Linked DNA regions of Homo sapiens: region 2 is linked to region 1. The links come from fine-mapping of genetic effects on gene expression. A gene starts in region 1. The other region holds a variant in brackets. All regions are shown on one strand. Distances are from middle to middle.

Evidence for each region. PIP is the estimated chance that this variant, and not a neighbour inherited with it, causes the effect.
Region 2: its variant is fine-mapped to the expression of CACNA2D1 in sun-exposed skin (GTEx, PIP above 0.99). The same link has a PIP of 0.9 or more in unexposed skin.

What each region holds. Positions count from the first base shown.
Region 1 is chr7:82,439,073-82,447,419 of GRCh38, reverse strand. CACNA2D1 (calcium voltage-gated channel auxiliary subunit alpha2delta 1) reads left to right here and starts at 3,643. Exons shown (of 39, transcript NM_000722.4): 1 at 3,643-4,055. The coding sequence starts at 3,961. RefSeq lists an enhancer at 4,638-5,201.
Region 2 is chr7:82,189,490-82,197,836 of GRCh38, reverse strand. The region is part of intron 3 of CACNA2D1 (calcium voltage-gated channel auxiliary subunit alpha2delta 1); the gene reads left to right. Among named protein-coding and RNA genes, the nearest start is that of CACNA2D1-AS1, 180 kb to the right of the region's middle. The variant G/A (reference allele first, on the strand shown) is at 3,563.

The DNA.
Region 1 (8,347 bases):
TTTTACCTTGTTTATTAGTTTAGGATAGTTCCTTTTCTATGCTTTTTATTTTTTATGCAGGCTTCAATGTGCCACTTCACTTTAAAAATGCCAAATATAAACTCTTGACTTAAAAATCACTACACACTCTTTTAACCATTCTCCTGAGCATTGATACTTCTGAATTGCTTGCTTTCTTATTCCTGTCTCTTGAAAGTATTCCCCAAAGAAGTAAGATTGTTGAAGCTTTCTTTCCATTTGTCTTTACTTTTCACTTTCTCTGGCACACATCTTTGTGTGCATGGAAGCATAGTACCATCTCAAATCACAAGTTTTTCTGATTATGACTCTTAACAGTATGTCTATCTCAGAGATGAGTCATATACACCTATATGCATACAAGCAAATAAGGCCCTTTGTCAAGGTTTTCACCTTAGTTTTCTTAAGATGTGGAAAGTAATATGAAAGTTAATTATTTCCTTTAAATTTTTTTGGCTAAGGATAATTATTTTCCTTTTCAGTGTTTGGGTTTGCCTGTTTGTACATGAGAACAAAAAGAGAGAAAGATTAAATAATTTCAATTAGGTTACTCTGTCTCATTTTTTCAGGCAAAATGTTGAAGAAATTAGATTTGATTTACTGAAAAAAATCACAGAAAAATGTTTGTACATACATATACTCATATAAAAACTACAACAAAAACATAATTTTATGCTGCCAACATTCACAGTATCACCTAAAAAAAGGAAGAATAAACATTTCATGGCAATCAAGTTTTTATTGTTCTTTATTCACTTTTAGTTACTAAAAAATGAAATGTATATGAACAAATTAAATATATGAATTAAAAACTGAGATTTAGCCAAAAGGTGCCAATCGCAAGTTTGTTGTAGGTAAAGGTCAGTGATTTGCATGAATTAAATCTCTTTAAACTTTGTTCTAGAAATGATTAAATGCAAAAATCTCCTGCAATACTTCACTAACTTACTAATTAAAATATTTCTTCTTAAATGAATAGTAGATACTGATTTGCGACTTCTTGCTCATTTATAACCTGTAATATATTAACTGTATTTACTGCACATTTACATCATTTACTATAACAGCTTAACAACAATCCTTATGATTTGTCAACATGTTGAACAGCAAATTTATCGTGATTAAGCAAAATTTTATTAAGATTAATGGGATATAATCTGATTTTAAGGGAATTTTCCAAAATAACAGAACTGAGCTGAAAAAATGCATTGTTATGGGTATAGTTAATCCAACAGAAACCTAATGCTATGTTATGGAAATGGTCTTCTTTTAGCTGTCATACATTTAAAAAAAAACCACATTTTGAATATCCTCAATAAGAAGGTTTAGATTGGTAAAAAGCAATTAATAGCAAACCTCGCAACAGAGTATTAAACAATGATTTAGGCTCACAGATGATAACCAACCCTTTCAGTAAGAATTGTAGAAGCAATATCTTTCCTCAACAGCTTCACATATTGGAGAACTCAGTGCTTCAACAGAGTGATCCAAAGAAATTGAGATTTGGCTCAAAGGCCAACAAAGTTAATAATAAAGGCTGACTTACCTTCTCTACAAGCTTATTACATTCTTTTATTCTTTAAGCCCTTTCTCCTAAAGATATAAAATTGGAAACAGTGTACCATAGTGGGAAGTCTGGAGTTGATGTTGAAATAATTGACAGAATATATAACAATGGTATTTTTAGGTAGTGAGGCTATTGATACCAACATATCACATAGACAATAATGGGCATCTCTAATTCTGCTCTTCTTAGTCCTCATGCTGGGGAAGAAAGTCTGCTTTTGAATTATTAAAAATGGAAGAAATGATGGATTTGACTATTTACTTATCTAATTTTGGAGTGGAATGCTATCTTCAGTTATATAAAATATCCCTCCTGAGCTGTAGTTCTCAATCCCATTACATCCCACTTCATCCCTCATTTGCGCAGCTCCTGCTGCCACAGTATCCATGCCTAGCATAAAACAAACTAAGTTAAGTCACGGTGGGGTGCCTTTTGTGAGGCCACTCAGAGTAGAAAGAAACAAAGAGCAAGACAGAGATGCGAAGAACATAAAGAAAACAAATAAGGCATTAAAAAAAGGAGAAATAAGTGGGAAGGAAAAATAAATTCACCAGGCTAAGCATCATAAAATCACACACGCTCTTAAAATTTGGCCAGTAATTAATAGTAGTAGTATTATTATTAGTCTTTGTTTTGGGAGATTGCCTTCAGAGAGCTGGAAAATTCATTTCGAATTAATAAGGGTCTTTTTCTTTCAGAAGCATCTCCTAAAAATAAGAACGGGCTAATTAAAAATCTGACAGCCACCCCGATACTTACAGAATTTTTGCATATGCAGGATAGTCATCACAAATTGTATTCTCTGCACGTCATGTCAAAAGTATTCTCATACACTACTAGAGGGAGCTTAAGAATTTAAGGTGTGCAAGAATATATTTCTATCTTTGGCCCACCAGGGCCCTCTTGTAGGAGGCCTGTGTTGGGCGGGAGAGGCCTAGTCGCAGACCCTGTCTTTTCAAGGAGAAAGCCCGCCACTGCTTCCTCTGAGTCTGGAGATAAAACCAGTCCGGCATTGCTACTCCCTAGCTCTCTCCCCCTCCCTTAATTCCTCCTCTACATTTCAGGCGCATTTCTCAGAGTGCCACCTGTTCCTGCTGCTTACCCTTTTCATGCCTTCGCATTGACAAAAGTGAGCTCACCCTGCGGTAACCTTGTCAGGCAGGGCAGGCCAGTGGCCAGAGCAGGGCGTTAGGACCCTTTTGGAGGTAGTCCCAACTGGGATGCTGCAAAGCGCTTCTCTTACTACTGTCCTCCCTAGATGCAGAATTCGTCCCTCCACCCCTCTGTCCAATGGAACCACAGGGCTGGGAAGATTTTACAGCGTCAGTACTTCTCTGTCCGTCCACAGCCCGGTCCCTGAGGCTCTGTCCTCGCCAGGTGAGCCGAGCAGTACCTGGGCGTGGGACCGCTGGCACAAAGGGCACCCAGCCCCGGCAGAGGCTCTAACCTATGGCACACGCGGGCATATAGTGCCACCTGGTAGAGAGTCAACAGTGGTGCTTTAAAATGCAATACAAACCCCTCCTACATTTGTTGTCAAATCACTTCACGATTCCCAGGCAGGCACTGGATTCTGCGCCTGGGAGTAGGGCTGGGGGGGAACGCTGCCTGCATGTGCAAAAATAACCCCCGAAGACGCGAGCCAAGTCCTGGGTTGGAGCCTCTGCAGCCTGTGGATGCCCGCTGGGCGGCTGGCCGTCCCCCGGGAGCCCCGCGGGGCTGGTCCGCTCCGCCTGCGCACGCCGGGCGGCGGGAGCGAGCCGGCGCCGACTTTGGGAGTTCCTGGCTGCCTTGTATGGAGGGCTGCTCCCGGCCCGTCTCCGCCCGACTGCTCTGACGCCCAGCCCTCCCGCTGCCCACCCCCAGCCGCCTCCCTCTGACTTGCCTAAGAAGCCAGACGGAGCCTCTCGCTTCCACAAGTCTCTCTGCCTGCCATTCCCCGATTCCTGCAGCCACCCCCACCCTCCAGCGCCGTCACCCCTCCTCCGCCCCCGCCCCCGCCTCCGCCTTCGCCTCGGCAATCGGGGGAATAAATCAGGGAGGAAACCGAGAGGGAGAGCGAGAGCGCGCGAGCGCCGGCGGGCTCGCCGAGGTCTGTTTCCAAAGTCGCCCTTGATGGCGGCGGAGGCAAGGCGGCCGCGGCGCGGAGCAGCCGACGCACGCTAGTGGGTCCGCCCGCCACCGCCCCTTCCTCGGCGTCCGCTCCCGCCCTTGCCGTCCCCCGCGCGGCTCCGCGCCTCGGGCCCCGGGCGCAGCCAGCCCTCCAGACGCCCGCGGTCCCGGCGGCGTGTGCTGCTCTTCCTCCGCCCGCGGTTTCCAGCGCCGCTCCTTCCCCCGCTTGGGCAGGGAGGGGGCATTGATCTTCGATCGCGAAGATGGCTGCTGGCTGCCTGCTGGCCTTGACTCTGACACTTTTCCAATCTTTGCTCATCGGCCCCTCGTCGGAGGAGCCGTTCCCTTCGGCCGTCACGTAAGTCGGCGGGCCGGGCAGGGAGCGCCGGCCGAGGGGCGCCGCGGGAGTTGGGGGTGGGGGTCGGTTCCCGAGTCGCGGGGCTTTTCCGCCCGTGGGGGTGGGGAGCGAGCGGCCGGGGAGCCAGGCTCGGATGCGGAGACGCCGGGCAGGCGGTGCGCGCCGCTCGCCGCTGGAATGCGTCCCGAACCGGCGTCTCGGGCGCCTCCACGGGGCCGGGCACTGGGGGCCGACTGTCCCGGGAAGCGCCCGCCGACGACTCGCGGCGTCTCAGCCCGTCTCTAACGGGATTCTCTAGACTTCAGAGTGCAGCCGTACTGGGGAAAAAAGTTTCCAGCCAGCTCACCCGCTCTGATTCAACCCAGTTCAATAAAAAGTTATGTTTTGGTTGGGTAATTTACAAACAGGTAATTTCAGGCTTGCCGAGGTAGCGTGGACTTCCCCCGCACTTGGCCTCGGAGATGCTCTTTAATTGCTGTAGTGCCCAAACTCGTTTTATCCCACGTTACTGGATGCACTTGACAGCCTTCCGATTAGACGCGTGCTGGCTCCCCGCGGCCGAGCGTGCTGTCCACGCAGGGGGCTCGCAGGTACTGGGACCACGCGATCCAACCTCCCCAACCCATTATTTGAAACATCTAAGTGTCGGCAGACACGCGGTCCCTGTTCTTCAAATGAATAGAGCCTATTCTTTGAAGGAGGGACTATTTCCAGTCTCCTACAAATTTTCTTTTATTTTTACCATTTCTAAAATAACTTTTAAAAACCTCGCTGCTGTTCTGGAAATAGAGGGCTTATAGGTAGCTATAGTCACACCACAGGAAGGGAATGAAAAATAATAATTCTCTCCTTTCTTAGCAAAATAGAATCAAACTCAATGGCACATATAAATATATACATATTTTTTAATGCACCGAATAGCCTATCCGGCATTCTGGGAAAGCATTTATTTTGGTTCTTGGAGCTTCTTTAAAGCTTCTAAAGGTAGGTAATCTTAAGTGGATGAGTCACTTTAATGCATTTTACATAACAAAAACAAAGCCCAAGGTAGCTTTCCCGGTATTTATGCTGCTGGGAATTACTTGCTGTCCTTTGTTGGCTGAGTGCTGAATACAGGAGTTTTTGGTGGAAAGTAACAGTGAATCTTTAGCGGTTGAAATCCTGCGGCTATTATTTAAGATTCAGTTTTAAGTATTTATTACCTTAGGTGTCAGTGCAAGAATCTGGAGGATGCACATTCTATCCCGGAGAAGGGGAGTGTCTAATTTTTGTTGTCATTGAGTTACAGTAATGTTCCTCTTTAGATAATCTTCCATAAAACTGATTGCAGATCCTTTTTGTTATGAAGCAAAAGGGTAAATGCCATCTGGAGATCTTCGTTTAATTGGCAGGATGTTCCAGTCAGATATTTTTAAACATAAAAAGAGTAAGAATCACCCTAAGGATGCTTCAGAATTATTTACTCTTATTAAGGCATCACACTTCCATTTAATTTTTTAAGTCTGTTTGTTGCTTGGCCTGTAAAGTGAGAACTCAAATGAGTCGCTTGCATTCTGTGTCAAATAAATAAGTGGCTCTTTAAAAAACAATCACTTCCTAAATGTGTTCCGATTACTCATTTTTACAGTGTTGTTTTTAACTGACAATTTATCAATATTTTTATCATGGGAGGGGATACATCATCATACCATTGGGGAAAACTACAACAAAATACAACCTTTTATTCCTCAACATACTGTGGTAAAATATTAATGTAAAAATCCTTATTGTTAAGAAGAACATCTGCAATAATGCTTTCCTAAAATTATAAGTAAATCAATTTTCATGGTCAGAAATTTACTAGACACAAGAAAGAGTATATATAGTGGGTTAAAATGGGAAGTAGGACATCACAATTTCTTTTCTTTGGAAGGATCTGAAATTTTTTTTAACGATGAAAATTCAAGATATTTTCAAATTATATAAGACATTGATTATTTAATGAATGAAATACTTAATAAAAGGTTTTGTGGAGCGAAGTCAATCTCCTGTAGGTAATCTTAACAATATTTTTGGAAGCCTTCTGCATCTTCAGTTTTTCATTTGAAAAGTTAGTAACACTGTCTTCTGAGGAAAGAACTGATGGTTGACATTTGTACTTCATGTTAGATTTCTGAATAAACTTTATGAAATTAAAAAATGCAATATTTTTCATAAAGATGTGCCATTTGCTTTTCTTTCGAGAAAAGAATTCATATGCACTGTTTAATCAGGACAAATCTCAAATCTTTGGGGGAAAATTTCAAATTTATAAAAACTGAGTGCAAAGACTGTAGTGTCAATAAAGGCAAATTATTATGCTTCTGTATGTAAATTTCTCTCGGAATCATTAGTAAATATTTTTGGGTTTTTTTTTTTGCCAGTTTCATTTTTCACAGAAAAAGTAATGTAAGAAGTTTTTATCAGCTGAAGAGGAAGAGCATGCCATCACACACTATAAAATTAATTATGCACTAATTGGAGTTGGACTTCAATTAGAATTAGTAGTTCAAAGTTTTTTTTTAAAAATATAGAGTGTTTACATTTGTGTGAAGGGCTTAAATTCTATTATGGTAAAACAAATGATGTGTCAGTTAAGTATCTTCTTTCATTTTTTGCTCTCCTGTTTAACATACATTCTAATATAAATTTTCTTTTGGATTAAAGTAGTAGTTAACCTGTTCTAAGAGTTAACACTAAAATAGATGTTTTTCAGACAAGGAAATTTTGATATGATTATTTCTCTGGGTTAGGTGTTTCTTTTGGAAATGTTTGTCTCCCTAAGGTGTGAAACATAAATACATGATATGGTAGCAGCCACATAATGTGTATTGGTTGATATATAAATGGAAAATATATCATTTTTATGCTATAGTATGCACATGTCGTATTGGTATTTTTAAAATGTAGCTTTCAAAAAGGGTAGTTGTCCGTTTTTCTAGAAATAATTTCTTGTCACATGTTAAAAGACTTCTATTTTAATATTTAGAATTACATGTGTGATAGCCAGTATTATAATGGTAATTTAAATTTGTCCTTAATTTTAGAATCTATTTACAAATGCAATTAAAAAATATATAGTTATAACTGTTAATATCAAACTTTTATCTCAGTCACATCAAAATGCCAGTCAGTCTACAATAATTGGCTGAGAGCCTATTGGTATACAGGGATTTTAATATAAAGTGTACAATGGTATAAATATAAAACTAAGAATTGTGGATATCCACAGGAAATAAGCATAAATTCTCATAGAAGTATAGTACTTTTGGCTTTAATTACTTAGGATATTTTTTTTTCCTGTTATTAGAGAAATTTGTATTTAAGGCTATAAAGGAGAAATTTTGTATGTCAGGATATTGTAATGGATATCTGTTCCATGCATTATAAGTGACATAATTATTCTCACTTGAAGTCAGCAGTTTCTGTTTACATTTTACATACACAAGGAAATGTGCCATATGATCAATTATGAGATAAAATATTAAATGTAAAATAAAACCTGAAACAGTGAACATTAATAAACTTTTCTCAAGTCTTTAATTTTGTTCTCATCGGCTTAACCATATAACATTTACTATTCCACAGATGTATGTTTTAAAATATGCAACAATAGATATATTTTTCCACGTAAGTAGTAATATTATGTTAAATTTATTAATGTTACACATAGCTATATGTGTAGCTATTTGGATTGGCATTTGAATGAAAATTAAGCAGACTGAAATGGATATAATTTTTGAAAAAAATGTAAGAAAATACAAGAATCTAAGCATATTATGGTTTATTAAAGGGAAATGAAATGTGCCTTTATTATCTCCCCCTCCCATGGCTTTCATTAATTTAATTTAATAAATATACATAAAATTTGAATATAAAGTAGGTGGTTCATTTTGACAATAGATAAGAGCTTTACAGTTGTTTTCTTCACAACAAACTGACTGTGTAGACATCTTTCTGTTATTTCTCCAACATTGATAAAACTAACAATAAAATACTCTTCTTTCTAGGGTTTACACATAGTAAATTTTTACAAAAACATAACATATGGAAATTATTATTGTGCTAAAATTTAGTATATATAGGAGTATATATTCATAAACAATAATGCATTGAGAAATTTTACAAATAATTTTTACAATAGTGCTCATAACAAACTATATAATTTACATATTCTCTGGAGTATCATTATATAAAGCACCTCTTAAGGTTTCTCTTGATTTCCCTATTTCTCAATATAGATGCAAGTTTCCAAGAATTTCCTAGCACATGTC
Region 2 (8,347 bases), 250 kb after region 1:
ACACATGGTAGTGTGTGTGTGTGTGTTTGTATAGTTTAAAAAAGACATTAGAAGGAGAAAATATATGCTTAATTTTCTTCTTGGAAATGTTATTTTCATGCATATTATGTTAAAAGTAATTGTAGCTGAATGTTTAATTCTTCTGAAAACTGGTAACTTGTCTGTGTCGTCCCTGAGGCACATGCCACGTAACAACAGAATTTATGGAGAATGACCAGGATTATCAAAGCCTTGTTATTTCTTTAGTGCTTGTGACACATCACACTGCATTAAAAGTGATTTCTACCATACAACAAAAAGACCATTTGTAATTCATTTCTCAGCCCCATATACTAGAAAATTATATGCCTGTCAATTCTAGTTTTTGTGGTATAATGCCTTACATTTATGTTATGATTTATAGTTACAAAGTTGTAGCACATACATGATTTTAAACATTTCTAATAATCTTGAATTAGAAAAATCAGTTTATTTTGGAAATGTATTCTGGAGTGCTTAAAACATCAGATGTATTATTCAGAGAACCGCTGATAGGGTGAAATGTAAAATTTCCTGTTCCTATTCATCTCATAAATTTTCCTTAAACCTTAGGTTTTGTTTCTGAATACTCTTATATAATATATTCTGTCACAATAACAATGTTCCTAATTAAGTAATCTTTAGTAAAGATTAATTTTTCTATAAATTTTCATATCCAACGATGTAACCTTGGAGACACATTTTCTTCTCTGTGTCAAAACAATTAAGGCATTTATTTGATAGCAACATGCTTAAACTAGCCACAATTTTTCACTGATTCTTATTATTCAGTACTTTGACTTTAAAAAAATTACATGAGAAAAGGATACTTTTCCTCAGAAAATTGAAGAGTGTAAAATCTATTTATTCTTAGATAATTCCCTTGCTCAATTCCCCAAAGAAGTGTATTATTTCAAATTTGTATTACTTTTCTCCCACTCTACCATATCCTCTTTCATTTTAAGGCAACCATCCTCTATTCACATATATAAAAAAAAAAAATGTACCAGATGAGAACTACCTCAGTTTCTTTGCCCAGACTATTCTCATCCTGAATCGTCTTTATCTATCTCTCTTATTTCTGACAAATATAAATCGGAGTCTATTTTGTTCAAGTCTAACAATCTTCTCTTGTTATTTCAGTCTTTTTCCTTACTCTCTAATGACTTTGCTCCCCTCCATCAACTGTCCCTGTTTTCTCTTGTGCTTCCTCTAAGGCAAACAAATCTACAAACAGACCAACTAAAACAACAAGCTCCAAGCCTAAATCATCTCAATTCTCCTTCCTTAGTATTTCTTGAATCTTTTTCCACAGCACCATTCCTAATGGCACTAGTTAGATCTGTGATCCTGTCGTTTTCTCCCTACTGTAGCAATGCAGTAGCTATCCAACAGGAATCCCCACCTCAGGTGTGTCCAGCTAGTCTGCCTTTTCAAGCATCCCCCATAGAATTCTTCTAGCATTGTCTTTATGACAAAATCCAAACCTCATAGTGTAGTAAACTGGTTGTTAACATGGCACTCTTCCTGTCTGGAAATTTTGGCTAGGCCCCAAAGCTAGTGGTTATGAATGCCAAACATCCTTACTTTAAAGAGAGTTATTAGACCATGTATATGGACTTGCAAAATGGTTCCAAAATCTAGTTCTAACCTTAGCTAATCTTCTACTTTGAAGCTATGTAATAAAAAGCAAAGAGGATAGTTGGTTGGCTGTGGGTAGGGGGATCAAGATGTCTCCAACCAAAAGAGGTGGTTGTAAATTAGTAGAATCCAGATTTTATGGACAGGCTCACTGAGTAGCTGGGGAAGGAATCACAATTGCTCAGTGACTACATTTAGATAACCCCAAAGTGGGAATTTCTGCAGAACTGCAAAAGCTTTCCAGGAGACAGTCAGCACTAGAATTTCTCTACACCCACCCACTGCAAAGTGTAACTCTCTGCAGCTGAGTTAAGACCCTTTCTGCCATTATCTATCCTCCCTCCTCTGATCCAGTCATTAAGAGTTGCAAAAGTGTGGGATGGTAGTCACAGAGCTATGACTCTGTGGTGCAGATTATTCTGTGAACTTCTCAGGGTGAGCCAGGCCAAGCTGTGAAAGGGTTGAAAGGTTTCAATTTGGTAGAGATTTTGTTAGGCCAGAGGGTTTTTTTTTTTTTAAATACATGAAATTGATTAGGAAATTATAGACTCTGGGAGAGATAACATGTTGGGTTAGAGACAGGAGATTTCACCTGGCAAAGAAGAAAGGCAATTTATTTGTCCCTACAATATTCTACAGACCTAAAAACAAAAATCCAGTTCTAATAGTAAGCACGATCTTTAAACAGAATATTTGTTTCCTATTTAACTACCCTCATCTTTCACCACTATCCCTCCAATCTCCAATCTGTGCTGTATCAATATACTTTGGACCTCCTTCCTTCATCACCAAAGGTGATTCCTGAATCTTTATTTGGAATCACCTTTTCAATGGAACCTTCCCTAATACCATATCCCACCCCATTTTACATGAAGTGTTACCTTATGTGTTCTACGGCACACCACTCACTTCCATCCCATCACGCATCAACCCAGATAGTGATGGTCTCATCTATTTCCCTTATGAGACTGTTCTATAATCTAGGGACTCTCTTTTAAATCTGTATCCCTGGTACTAATTGCAGTGTCATTAACAGAGTATAGGTTAAATAATTTTGTAAACAAAAATTAATTGGTAATGGAATCATTGAGTTGAGATAAAATATAAATCTGAAAAGATACTTTAAGTATATGTCACTAGAAAGAGAAACAGAATTGCACATGAAACATTTTCTGTAAAAGATAAAAGAGTGCAACTTAAAGTGCTGTCTGTGCCTATTACGATTATCTTCATATGACTACTTGGAATCTCAGTCTCTGTCTCTATCTCCCCCGCCCCCCATTCTTGTGCTGGATAGATGTGAAAGTACAATACTGCTTACCTTTCATTATCAAGTATTTTCACAGACTCTTACTTCATTCTAGAATGCACTTGAGAGTTATTTCTTATCGTAGGTTTTCCAGTTCTTCCTCACAGATAATTTTACTGTTATCTCTTCTCCCTGATCTGACCTTTGCCAGACATTGTTGTTACTGCTGCCCTTTCCCCAAATCTGAAGATGTTTTCAAAATTAATTTTTCATTAAAATATATCGTAATATATATAAATGTCAAATGAAAACATGATAGAGTATTGTTTGCCCTCTCTTCTCATTAAAACTTAGAATGTTTCAGCTTGGACTTTAGTTTAATAGCTATTATTCATTAAAAAAAGTGAAGATATAAAGAAAAGTGGATGTGAGATCCACTATGTAACTACTTCAACTCTTGCTTGGTATTTACATATGCATACTCCAGCATACACACAAATCATTAAGAGAAGAAACTTTTTTGTTTTGTTTTTTGCCATTCCAGCATAAGAAATAAGGACATATTTTGCTATCCCTGCATGAACATGCAGGAGTTTGTCATTTTTGGCACAAAGCAAAATGAGGTTTGTTATCTTCAAGGGTGGGGTTGAGACA[G/A]TCACCGGAGCTCTTGAGCCATAGCTTGACTACCAACTGGAGGTTGCTTATGATAATTGATAACCCAGCCCTACGGAGCAGCTGATGGGAGAATGATTCACACTCTGTCACTGGCTCATGCCAACTCATGTAGAAATACACACAGCTTTTAGCAGCTACTTTGAAATCTTACTCTAATAAAGTCATTTAGCTTTAGAAATTTAATTCAACACAAACTACTTCCTTTAAGGAGATTCGTTACCAGAACAACAATGTAGCCTTATAATTTTGATGCCAAAATTATTATAGTGGGATTCCAGTGCACCATGAAAGCAATTATACAGATATGATGCTTTTAAAAATATGACATAAAGTTGATAAAATATGCATAATAGATAAAGGGAATGTTTTGAAAGCCATTATTTGTAAGTAAATACGTTCTTTGATTTTATTCAGCACCACAAAATGAATTTTCAGGTTGTAAAGCAGCTAATCAAGACAAACACAAAACATATCAAGTATGTAACTGGCTACTATGTTAAACAAATTTGTTTTCAATAATGCCTACTCTTCAAATACTGAATTTCGCTTGTTGGGGGGAAGATAAATTTCAGCAAACCTGCGAAACATTGTAAAAGTGATTCGGAAAAATCTAACCATAAAATGCAATGCCTTAACTTTTTTGTACTCACTTCAATATAGTATGCATTTCCATAGATTATGGTGTGCTCAAGTGTAATAAATGTTTCATTTAATTATTTTTAAATCTACTTAAAAAATGAGACATTTCATTTTGGTTCACGCTTAATCTTTTTAGACTTAAATATATTTCCACAAACCCACGCATCTCAAAAGATTTGGCAAACTACAATGATAGCAATTATTGTTAATTCCAAAAACTGCTAAAATATCCCAGATATTTGTCAGTTTGCCCGGGACTATTTTGGACACACATGATAGAAGCTATTAATTTTTTATTGTGATGTTGCCATTAGTAATTTTAAGAAGTAGGTAATCTGTAAATGTGCATTGTTCAAAGTATCTTCAGAAAAATTTCAAACTGTGTCTAACATTAATAGTATTTAATTATTTATCGTACCTGTTTGGCCTTATTTACTTGAATTATGAGGGGTTGAAGCCCGGGTAAAGTGCAATTCTCATTCCAAAGCTAACTATAAAGCTTCGGCTAAATCCTTGTACGACCCCTTGAGAACAGCACATCACTTACCAATGTATTTTAGCAGAAGAAGCATCAGACAAAGGGGACTGGGAATTAGAACAAATGGGATCTAGTTCCAGTTTAACTGATGCTTTCAAGACGACCTTCATAAAATAACTTTTTGTTTTAAAGAAATTATGACTAAAATATCATTAACCATCTAATATTTTCTGTACAAGTCAAGGTAGATGGTACTATGCAAGATAATAATATATTCTGGAGCAATCTCAAAGTACGGAGATCAAATGTATAGTGTTTGTGTGTGTGTGTGTGTGTTTAGTTAGAGTTACAGAAGAAAAGTTAGATGTTTCAGGAAAAAAAAAAAAAGGAACAGCTGCTCAGGTTAATAGCATTTGAAAATCTACATAGAATCAACAGAGAGTATTGCATAGAAGACATAGGATTATCTGCCAGGCAGTTGGCTCAGTCAAAGAGAGTTCATTTAATACTTACACATCTTGAATTCTTAATTTCTGTTTTCTTCACTGATTCTGTTGATCTTTCTACTTTATACACAGATATTTCTCAAGGATTGACCCTTGATTCTTTTTACCTGTCTCTATATTCACACACACACACACACACACACACACACACACACACACACACACACACAAACACAAACACACATACACACACACACAGACATATAGACATATATATATATATATATATATTTCCCCTGTTTTTTGTTAACTAGATAACTTGGGGCCTGTTCTGAATGAGTTTCTAAGCATTTAGTATGGTGATAGTAATACCTATTAATAGAGTTATTGTGAAATTACCTAATACAATGCTTGGCACTCAGCACTAAGTGATTTTATGTCATATCCACCTTGTTTTCTTGTTTGGAATCTTACTGAATATGAAATGACTTTTGGACACAAAGTCATTCTATTTAGGTTTTTTTTTTCATTTTCTGTTTCTTTACATTAAATTTGAAAGTTCTTGAGGGCAGGAACTGTATTTTCATGCCTAAAGTTATGTATCTGATAGTACAGAGTAAGGTAAAGAGGGATAGAGAAGAGTCAAACATTTTTTTAGATGCATGAATTTGTGAAAATACAACTTTAAGAAGTTTTCCACAGTATGTGGTGAGATTTCTTTGCATGATAGAGTGCTTACACTCACAATAGATGATAATAATCATTCTTTGTATTTCTAAGATGAATATGAAACCTCATTGAGAGAAAAGCGTATCTCATTAAGCTTGTATGTTACAGCCTATTTCTTTGAAATATATTCATTAATAAAATAATTCACTTTTTCTCTTTTTTTGATTTACTTTATTCATGGTTTTTGATTTGCTGCTTTCAAACGTCTGTTTATACTTGCAGTTGATTATATGAACACATACACACGTATGCCTCTAACAAGAGAGGAAGGAAATTATTTATTCATGTTATGACTTTGATTTTTTTCTTTAACTTTTCCTTTGATTTAAAAATATATAAAACATTTGTAAAGTCAAAGTTCTTCCTGATAGAAGTTAGGAATGAGTAGAAGGAAAAACCAAAGATTTTACACGGGGTAATTGTCAAAGCAACTTGCCTTTGTGTTCTTTGAGTTATAAGGTGGTGATTAGGTTTTCAGGTTTAGAGAAGTGTGAGACAACCTAATTAAACACCTTTTTGCTGAAAAGCAGCTCGATAAATTCAGATTGCTCTGGGAAATTCTCAAAGCTTTTATCAGAAAGCTAATACTACAAAAATCTTTTAAACTAATCGCTTTTGAAAAATTATTTCCCAGACTGGAAATAAATTATATTTGAATAAGTAAGCATGCTAGAATTATTATATTGAATAGATGCAAAGATGTAACTTAAGTTTAAAAAAGTACAATCAATAAATGTATAGTAAGCACGTGTTTTCTAATAATGATTAAGGCAAATTACTAATTTTGTGATCCCTTAACTCTTTGATTTCTCTTTATAAATCCTGTATAAATAATTATGTAATAAGGGGATTGTGAGTTTGGGATGAGAGAAAAGCTAAAATCTTTACAGATTATAGACGTTCTTGAGTTGTACATAAGACCTTTATCTTCTTTATCAGCATAGTGTTTATTATTGCCCCCATTAACAGTATACCTATTAAAAGTTAATTGTTTACCTATACATATACAATGGAACATATTTTGTAATTTTGTAGTGTCATTCAATGGCATTCTCTCCCTTTTAAGAAAAATGTTTTTTGATGGCTCCTGTTGACTTTTCAAGGCTCAAAGAGAAATTTTCTTTAAGTAATCTAGTTTGTCATTCTGTAAAATGATAGGGATAGATCCAATGACTCCTAAGATCCCTTCCAGTCTCTAACAATATATGATTCTATGAATTTCTTTTTTTCATAATACCAAGAGGAAATGGTGATGGATTTAAGGATATTGGGAGGATTTCATTATTTTATTGAAAATGGCCCAAAGCTCTATCAAAAAAAATTTGGTATGAAAGTATTACAGTTTGAAAAGGACTTGGAATTGCAGTTGGATGATGGGTAAGGGTGGTGTAAACAAATCCACACACTACTGGGTTGATTAAATTTATCTTTCTGGGAATTGAATATATGGTGATGTTTCATATTACAAATGAGATTTGAGGAAAGTTAATGAAGCTGAATCCTCATTAGGTAGCCATGCTATTCTGCATCTTTGATTGATAGCAAAGAATTGCTATTGTCTTTTAGTAATTAATCTCCTTTGTGCCACGGAGCAGATTTTTTTCTTAAAACAATTTATTCATAGTTAATACAATTATGGATATGAAGCAATTAAACATTGGCTCACATTCAGGATAAAGAAAAACTAATTGATAAACTAAATTCCTCATGCATAGAACAAGAGTAATGCAGTCTTGCTGTTGAGATGATTCTTTCTGTGGAGGTGAATAACAATATCATTTTAGTGACTAAGATTGTTTACTTTCAATTATAAAACTTTGCTTCTCTGACTCGTAACAACCCTTCACTAAAGAGGCCCAAAATGACAGTTTCTCATCATTGAATACTACACAGTTCTGTTGCAAACTTCATAACAGAATTGTTTCAAGGCAAAGTAGGGTTACCTAATTATTTGAAATGAAAAACTAATTCTAAATCACTTATCTTTGAAATATAAGCATAATAACGTTTGTGGCTCCTATCATTTCATTTATCTAATGTAAACCTTTTATTAATAACTTTTACAATTAGTTTAATTTTTTTCCTAAAGCAAAATCATGAGTAATCTTAATGCAGCTACTTTGCATTTTTAATCTATTTCCAGCACTAGCCTGGTAAAAAAGTCAGTGACAATGAATGAAAGTTGAAATTTTTCTTACACAAATTTTTTTGTCCGTATTCTTCTCCCTTATGTATTCTTTTCTGTGTCAAGCTCTTTTATACTCTTCCATTATTCCACAGTATTCACTCCTCTGAGTCTTTACTCAGACTTGCCATATTCAGTTGGTATCTCTTATTTTAAAATAATTCTTCTATTCTCCTTTGTTTTTAACCTTTGCCAAAATTTTTCATTTTCTAGTATCTTGTTTATCTTCAATCTATGAAAGATATAATAAATTAATTCATGGTAAATTTAGTGCCAAGAAAATTTCT